Linked DNA regions of Homo sapiens. The protein of the gene in region 1 purifies or fractionates together with the protein of each later gene. This does not show direct contact. Each region holds a gene or a part of one and is shown on either strand. Other genes may lie near its edges. The genes, in order: POU1F1 and CDC42BPG.

Region 1 (3,814 bases):
AGGAACTTATAAACCCATACTCATATGTCTGCGTGTGTGTGAGAAAGAGAGCGGGAGAGACAGAGAGATCATTTTATTACTGTTAATATATTTGGCTTAAAATAGATAATGTGGCTTCTGAGAATAATTATTTTAAGTAAATAACATCAATATAATTTAAATTGTTGGTTTCTTTTTTTTAAAAAAAAGTGGAAAAGTAAAGCTTCTGTAAAAGCTATTGATATAAAATGATTTTAAGTCAACCAAGTAATTTCTGTTTTTGTTGAGGAAGAGAAAGGAATGAAACGGGAGAAAAAGGCTATTATACAATAGAAAAATCTTATCTGCACTCAAGATGTTCCTTAGAAATAGAAAATAAACTCTGATTCAGACTTGTTTTCACCCGTTTTTCTCTCTGCCTCCGGTTGCAAAACCAAACTCTTACTACTTCTTTCTCCAGATTCAGTTCTTCAGCCATCCTCATGATCTCTTGAGAAGAAGGTTTATTCTGTTCTCCAAAGTGTCTCTCCAGAGCATCTTTAGCAGCAATGCTGGCGGGGGGTGGACATAGGGGGTGAAATTTTGTTGTTTTTAGTGAAGTTTTTGGCAGCTCAAAATTAAGGTAGGTTGAATTTCCTCAATATTAACATGAAAAGGAAACTTAAAAACTCTGAACACACTTGCAGGACACTTTAACAAGGACAAATGTATAATGTGTTAAATATGTAGATATTTTGTCTTATGTAAGGTAGAGTTACACGAGAGTCACGGAAAGCATTAAGTAGGGGACCCAGACTTTCTATGTTTTTCCCACTTTGTGCCACCAGAGGGCACTGAGTTCTTGAGAAGAAAATGAACATTTTCCTAGACATTTCTAAATATCTCCCCAAAATCATTTAGGGCTGTTTACGATAAAGGAAATCTCTAGTAAACAACTGACCAACCAAAACAAAACCTGTCTTTTAGTATTTGCTAAGCATGTCTCACAGAAACTACAAAAAGATCAATGAACAATCTTTCTGGGTTGAAATGCAAGAGGTCATGTTGAACTTGAAGAGACCGAAACACTGATTACTAGTGTCACATTTTTAAATACTATAGACACCATGGATACTACATTGTCAGAGCAATAAGTTATAGCTAAAAGGGGAGAAGATATGGCCAGTCTCTTAGAAATGATTGTTTTCTTTCTGTTTGTATTCAAAATTTTGGAGTAAAAGTGTTCTTGAATCAAACAATACATAATTTTCCATCAAATGTTGAAAATTATTAGCTCTCCATTTCTCAAAATTAAGTTATTACATTATTATTATTTTTTTTTTATTTATTTATTTATTTATTTATTTATTTATTTATTTATTTATTTATTTATTTTGAGACGGTGTCTCGCTCTGTCGCCCAAGCTGGAGTGCAGTGGCGCAAGCTCGGATCACTGCAACCTCCGCCTCCCAGGTTCAAGCCATTCTCCTGCCTCAGTCTCCTGAGTAGCTGGGATTATAGGCACCCACCACCATGCCCGGCTAAATTTTGTATTTTTAGTAGAAACAGAGTTTCACCATGTTGGCCAGACTGGTCTCGAGCTCCTGACCTCAGGCCCGCCTTGGCCTCCCAATTCACCTTACATTTATATGTTATGTTACACCTGCATTACACTCAAATGCTCATTCCATTTATAAAATACCAGTTTTGTCCTCTAGTAACTTTTAATATAAAGAATACCTTATAGTTGTTCTTCGTTTTCTTTTCCTTTCATTTGCTCCCACTTTTTCATTGTACAAAGCTATAATGTGGAAAAGAGAGATAATTACAAACACAAAGTAGACTTTTTATAAAAAACGATCTGATTTGGATTTCAAATTTTCTTCATAAAACAATGCAAAATAAAAATGCTAGACATTTTTGTCTTAAATTTTTGCAGTCTTTTTCTATTACAGACCTTAGAGAAAAATCTCAACGCAGAAATAAATATTAACCTTGCAAAGACACTTTCTACAAATAATATCCTCACTTTACTTTTGTTGGAATGCTTGCTGTAAATACTCTCAAACCTCACTCTTTATCAGGCTCTGACATTTGTATGAGTAGATAATTTTAGCTCATTAAGTTGCATATCTAGCAATTGCTTATATTATTTTCTTGGAAGACTGGTGTGTGCAAATGTTTTGTGTACACTAATATTAGGATACAAATGTGATTCATATATAATTTCTCTAGTATAAAAGAGAGGAAAAAAATGGATGTGTAAAAAAATAAGTATTTTACCCCTTCATGCTGATGCCAACAAGCTTTCCTTATATAGGTTATTCTATCCTCAATAAATTTATTTCCACACTTACATTGCCCTTCCTTTTTTGTTGTTTGTTTTAGTGTGATATAACAAAATGTTTATTTTTCATCTCAAAGAGAAAAGGCGGAAAAAAACCCCTCAAACCTCCTGCTTTAGCATTAATCCTACTTATTGAAGCCATTATTTTTAGGTTAAAACACAGCACAGCCTTCAGAGACACAATTTAGTACCTCCTACTTGCTCAGCTTCCTCCAGCCATTTGGATAATATTGCTTTCAGTTTGCATGCATTTTTAAAGCTGAGCTGCAGATTTTCAAATCGGCAGATTGTTGTTTGACTGAATTCAGAGCCATGCACAGCTGCCAGGGCCTCCCCAACATTTGTCTGGGTGTATCCTGTGAAGGGACAATAAAGACCATCAGCTCCAACTTTCCAGGAAATGTTAATTTTGGTTCATTGTCACACAAATCTGTGTATCTTTGTCAACTATTACACACTATTTTTTAACTATATATTCTTGGCAAATCAGAATTATTTAGTAAGATTCATTATACTTTGAAGTACTTGTGCAATACTTCAAAACATATTTCTTCTAGTTAATAAATTACTTTTATCTAGTCACTGAAAGAATTCAGATAGAAACATCTGCCATTCATAATATTTAACCAGTGTTTAGGTGTGTCCTAAACACTTCATAAGGCACTTGAAAATTATGGCTTTTTTATCATTATTGTTAGTTATCAAATAATATATGCTCAAAAAATTTTAATATATTAACTATAATGCATAAAATATACGGTTATATATCATAACATTCTTATTTCAACTCTAAAAGATTCAATGATATTGTTGAAGGGTACTAAATAAAACTAAGAATTATGTCACTTTCCCTAAAACCATATTTATTAAGAGGCTATGATTACACATTTCATGTATACTTCTGAGCCCATTTTATAGTTTTTGATAATGCCTCTGTCTTCAGACTAATGATCCTTATTGTTTGTCGCAAACATTTTTAGAGTACAGCTGAAATAACATATAATTTGAAACATTCACAGTAATATAGATAGAAAACTGAAAATGAATTTCACAAAGATTCCTACTACTGTGCTTATCACATGTAATAGCTACATATTATTTCAGGACCTAAGGCTATATACCTATATGTATAAAATGGTTGCATATGATGCCCATCAATAAATATTCTTATTACATTATCTATTGTTCATTCTGCAAGTGCAGAGGTTTGAACTATTATTTCAATCCATTAAAAAAATACACAATTTTATGCAATTTAACCAAAGTCAATTGTTATAGTTGTTTTATTTTAAAAACACTTCAGTAGAAAATGAGCAAAGGCTCTGAACAGATAGTTCACAGAAAAGGAAATATAAATGATTGTCAAGCATATTAAATAATATACTTTACACTCATAATAAAAGAAATTTTAAATGAAAAAACAGTGAGATGTCACTTTGACCTGTCTGATTTGCAAAGATCTAAAAGATTAACAGCATATTTTTTCTTTCAACCACCATTTATTTATTT
Region 2 (4,342 bases), on another chromosome or scaffold:
GGCCACAGGGAGGACCGGGGTGAGCCCAGCCCGGTGTGAACACCTCCCCCCACCTACCCCAGGCCCTTTGCTCACCTCCCCAAAGGCTCCTCGGCCGATCACCTTCAAGATCTCAAAGTCATCTCTCTGCAGACGCAGTTCTTTCACCTTTGATACGAAGGGGCTGGCTGAGGGGACACAGGGCGGGACTCAGAGTGCAGGGAGGGAGGGCTCCATTCCCCCTCTCACCTTGGGCAAGCCAGGAGCTGCCGCTCCTGTGAGCCCAGGCAGGGATGACCTCCCCAGGGACAGCCTCGGGCCAAGGGGTTGTGGCAGGAACTGGTGCTCCTTTGGCCATGATCAGGAAGTGCGGAAGGTCAGAGGCCGGGCTCAGCTGACCGCCTGGTCCCTGGACCTCCCTGGACCCCTGGCCCCAGACTCTAGGCAGCCTCCATCCCAGGGGCTGATGGGACTTGTAGTCCTGCCCAGTCTGCGGCCTGACTCTGCTTGGCCAGGTCACCCTGGGGACCATGGGGACACCATTCCTACCCCCACCTCACAGTTCTTGGCCCCCTCACAGGTTCAGGCCAGGGCCTGTCTTAGGAAACTGGACGGGTGACATTCCTTATCCCCAGAGAGGCTTCTCTCCCATTCAGGAGCTGTGGGCCTGGGTCCCGGGACCCTGTAGGCATAGAGGTGCCTGGTTGGGGGTGAGGCCTGCAGCCCCTAGGGCAGGGAGGACAGGCTCTATGCTTCCCACGTGGGGCCCCTCAGGCTGGAGGCATGGATGCCAGTCTGCCAAGGTGCTGAGACTCACAAACAGGACAAAGATGCCTTTCCCTGGTGCTAGCACTAGCCCCTGAAGGCGTGAGTGCTCAGGATGCCTCCAGGCCTGACCGGCTCTCTCACTCCCAGCCCTGCCTCCCTGTCTGGACGAAGCTTTTGTCTGGTCAAGAACGTCCTCTTTCCTCACATCCCAGATACCTCCAGGAAGGGCAACTCCAGCCACTCCCAGGCACTTTCCAGGCCTGGATTAGCCCCAGGTTTTGGGAAGGAATTGGGTCTTAGGGAGGCAGGAGTGATCAGTCAGGATGGGGGGCAGCTGTGGTCTGGCGCCCTGCCTCAGTTTCCCCCTGCCAGGAGGTAAACTCCCTGCCAGCTGGGCGGGTCTGTGGGTGGGACAGAGAGCTGTTCCACAGGTTTATCAGGCAGAAGCCCGCAGCGGGGGCGGGGTGGAAACCTCATTACAGAAATTCATTGTCTCTTTCCCAGGTCTGTGTGTGGAGCTGGGGAGGAGCAGCCCCGGGCCTCCCCGTGGGAGTTGAAGCCAGCACCATAGGGACCCACCCGCCAGAAGAGGGCCGAAGCCCAGGCCCACAGGCAGGAGGATCCAGGCCCCTGGACAGGCTGCCTAATCCTCTGGCCTCCCACAGGGCATGGGGGCTCCGGGCAGGAGCAGGGACAAGTAGAGACAAGCAGGAGAGGAATGAGTCACAGCCCTTTGAGTTACCTTGGGAGATTGTCAACAGAGGGCCCCCATGCCGGGGTCCCAGGCAGAGGTGCTGGAGGCAGTCAGGGAGGAGCACACATGTGTGTGCAAACACACACACGTGTGTGGGTGTCATGGGGGGGGTGACAACAACACAGGCAGACAGGCATAGCACGGAGGCATACCAGGGAGACAGGCACAGAGGCAGGGGCCTCTGACTGCCTCGCCCTGGATGGAAGGGTTGGGGCTAGGGGACAACTCCCTGGCACATCTAGGTGGCAGCCTCCCCCTCTACCCCAGGCCTTGTGCCTTCCCAGAGCTCAGGAGTGCCAGGAACGCTAGTTGCCCACTGGGCAAACACCTGCCTCACCCCGCCCTGGCCAGGCCCCCGTGCCTTTTCCCCATGGCCCGGCAGGGTGTGACCAGGGAACCCTCCAGCTGGCGCCAGTGCCCACAGTGGGTTCAGGGTCACCCCGGGCCAGCCACTCCCAATGACTCAGATGAGTCTACCAGGAAAGGTACAGACCCATCTCCAGCTAGGCCCCCCTCCCCGGCCCCGGCGCCACAGCCCCCAAGGAGCTTGGCCAGCAGCCTGCACAGGCCAAGGGTTGGAGATCGGTTCCTGAGTCCAGGCTGCAGTGGTCTTGTACCCAGGGAGCTGGGGGTGTGTGTGTTGGTGGGGGGAAGGTCTGCAAGTGTGCGATACCTACAGATCTGTGTGTTTTGCAGTGCCAATGCGGTCGGGGTGGTCTGCAGCGCTCCCTGGGTCTCTCCATGAGTTGTGTGTCTCAATGCATCCGAGAGGAAGGAGAAACAGAGCCCGTGTATCAGTGGGTGACATGCATGAGGGTCTGTGTGTGTCCTGCGTCAGGTGTGGCCTGTAAGCAAGGAAATCTGTAAGGGACTCTAGGCGGTGCACTGGGTACATGCGTCTGCGGTCGATACCTGAGCACAAGTTGGTATGTGTGTGCATGTGTCGGGGTCTGTGAGAGGGAGAGAGCGTGTGTGAGAATTGGAGTGAGGGTGAGGTGTGCAGGCGAGTGTGCGGGCCGCGGGGGTCCGGTGGTACGCGTCAGGGCCACTGCAGGGAGTCTGCGAGGGAAGCCCGTGGGGGTGCGGGTCCCTGCGGGAAAGTCTGCGGGTGCGGGGGTCTCGGCGCGATATCCCTAGGCCCGCCCCCGCTCCGTGCCGCCCCGCCACTCACCCCAGCTCAGGAACTGCGCCACGCTGCGCTCCCGCCGTAGGGGGCCGCTGCTGAGCTCGTGGTGCAGCGCCAGCAGCAGATCTAGGAGGCCGTCGAGCCCCGGGCAGCCGCCGGCCTCGCCCCGCGCCAGCTGCTCCAGCGCGCGCAGCCGCCGCTCCATGGCTGCGGCCGGAGCCTCGCTGCTCGGCTACAGTCTGGCCGCCCGCATGCCCGCCTGTCGGGCCGTCCGTCCGCCCAACCGTCTGAGGCTCTGTCCGCGCGTCCTCCCCCGCCCCTCTCCCGCCCTCCCCGCTGTCACCTTCCTCCGCCGCCGCCAGCGCGCCCTCACCTGGGCGCCGCGCCCCGCCCCCCGACGGACGGGCAGGTGCGCGCCGGCCAATGGGAGCCGCGGCTAGAGGTGAAGGTGGGGGCGGAGGCGCGCGGGGGCGGGCCCAACTCCCGGCCAGGAAGTGCGGGGGCGGGCCGGGGAGAACAACTGACTTCTGCGCGGGGCGCGGTGGGGTTCTGCGGGGTCGGAAAGACTCCCCAGATCCCCGCGCGGCCCCAGACCCAGACTTACCTGGGCCCTCCCTGGGCCCTGACCCAGGAGGCGCGGAGCACTGCAACTTCTCTCGCCCCCTGGGTCGCAGCCGCCTTGCCCTTGGCTAAGAGAGAGGGGCTAGGGACGCCCGCGGCCCCGGAGCCGGATGGGAATTGTAGTTCGCTCTCTCCATGGTTTGCCCGCGCTTGGCACCCATCGCCCCCCCGCCCCCGCCCAAAAAAAAGTTTCTGAATCTTACTTTGATTGTATCATTAGAGTTGATGTGGGAGACAGGAAGTTGGGGTAGGGATGGTCACGCCCATTTGGCAGATGGACACACTGAGGCTTGGGAAGGAGGAAGGCGAATTGAGGGGCTGAGGACAAGGTGGCTCTTAAGTTAGACCCTGGGGTGGAGGTGGAGCTGGGCTGGTACCAACACCACAGGCGTTTTAAGCTTCAGTAGGAGCAGGGCCTGAGGTCTGACCTGGAACGTGAAGGGCAAGGAGAGGTCTGAGATAGGCTGGAGGAGGTTGGGGAGGGGAGGGGCTGGCTCTGTCCAGTGGTATTTCTGATTTCTGTCCAGCTGGGATGGACCAGGCACCATGAGGAGAGATCAAAGGGTGGGACATATTGGTGGCTTCAGACAACACTTTTTTTTTTTTTTTTTTGAGACAGGGTCTCTCTGTCACCCATGCTGGAGTGCAGTGATGCAATCATAACTCACTGCAGCCTTGACCTCTTAGGCTCCTGCCTCAGCCTCTTGAGTAGCTGGGATTACAGGCAGATGCCACCACACCCAGCTGATTTTTTATTTTACTTTTTGGAGTCAAGGGTTATTGTTATGTTGACCAGGCTGGTCTCGAACTCCTGGGCTCAGGTAATCCTCCCACCTTGGCCTCCCGGAGTTCTGGGATTACAGACATGGGCAACTACACCCGGCCTAGACAACACTTCTTTCTCTTTTTTGAGACAGGGTCTCACTCTGTCCCCTAGGCTGGAGTGCAGTGGTGCAATCGTAGCTCACCACAGCCTCAACCTCCTGGGTTCAAGTGATCCTCCCACCTCAGCCTCCCGAATAGCTGAGACTACAGGCTCACACCACTAGGCCAGGCTGATGTTTTGTTTTTTGAGATGGTGTCTCACGCTGTCA

The links.
Region 2: the proteins of POU1F1 (region 1) and CDC42BPG purify together in Homo sapiens (affinity purification with mass spectrometry; one large-scale study listed by BioGRID and IntAct). This does not show direct contact.

The regions. Positions count from the first base shown.
Region 1 is NC_000003.12:87,259,575-87,263,388, forward strand, and holds part of POU1F1 (pituitary-specific positive transcription factor 1), read right to left. Parts: intron 2,662-3,814; coding exon 2,497-2,661; intron 1,760-2,496; coding exon 1,699-1,759; intron 531-1,698; coding exon 320-530; 3' UTR 1-319. UniProt on the Homo sapiens protein: Transcription factor involved in the specification of the lactotrope, somatotrope, and thyrotrope phenotypes in the developing anterior pituitary. Specifically binds to the consensus sequence 5'-TAAAT-3'. Activates growth hormone and prolactin genes.
Region 2 is NC_000011.10:64,841,738-64,846,079, forward strand, and holds the start of CDC42BPG (serine/threonine-protein kinase MRCK gamma), read right to left. Parts: upstream 2,917-4,342; 5' UTR 2,833-2,916; coding exon 2,673-2,832; intron 2,347-2,672; exon of another isoform or gene 2,179-2,346; intron 168-2,178; coding exon 76-167; intron 1-75. UniProt on the Homo sapiens protein: May act as a downstream effector of CDC42 in cytoskeletal reorganization. Contributes to the actomyosin contractility required for cell invasion, through the regulation of MYPT1 and thus MLC2 phosphorylation.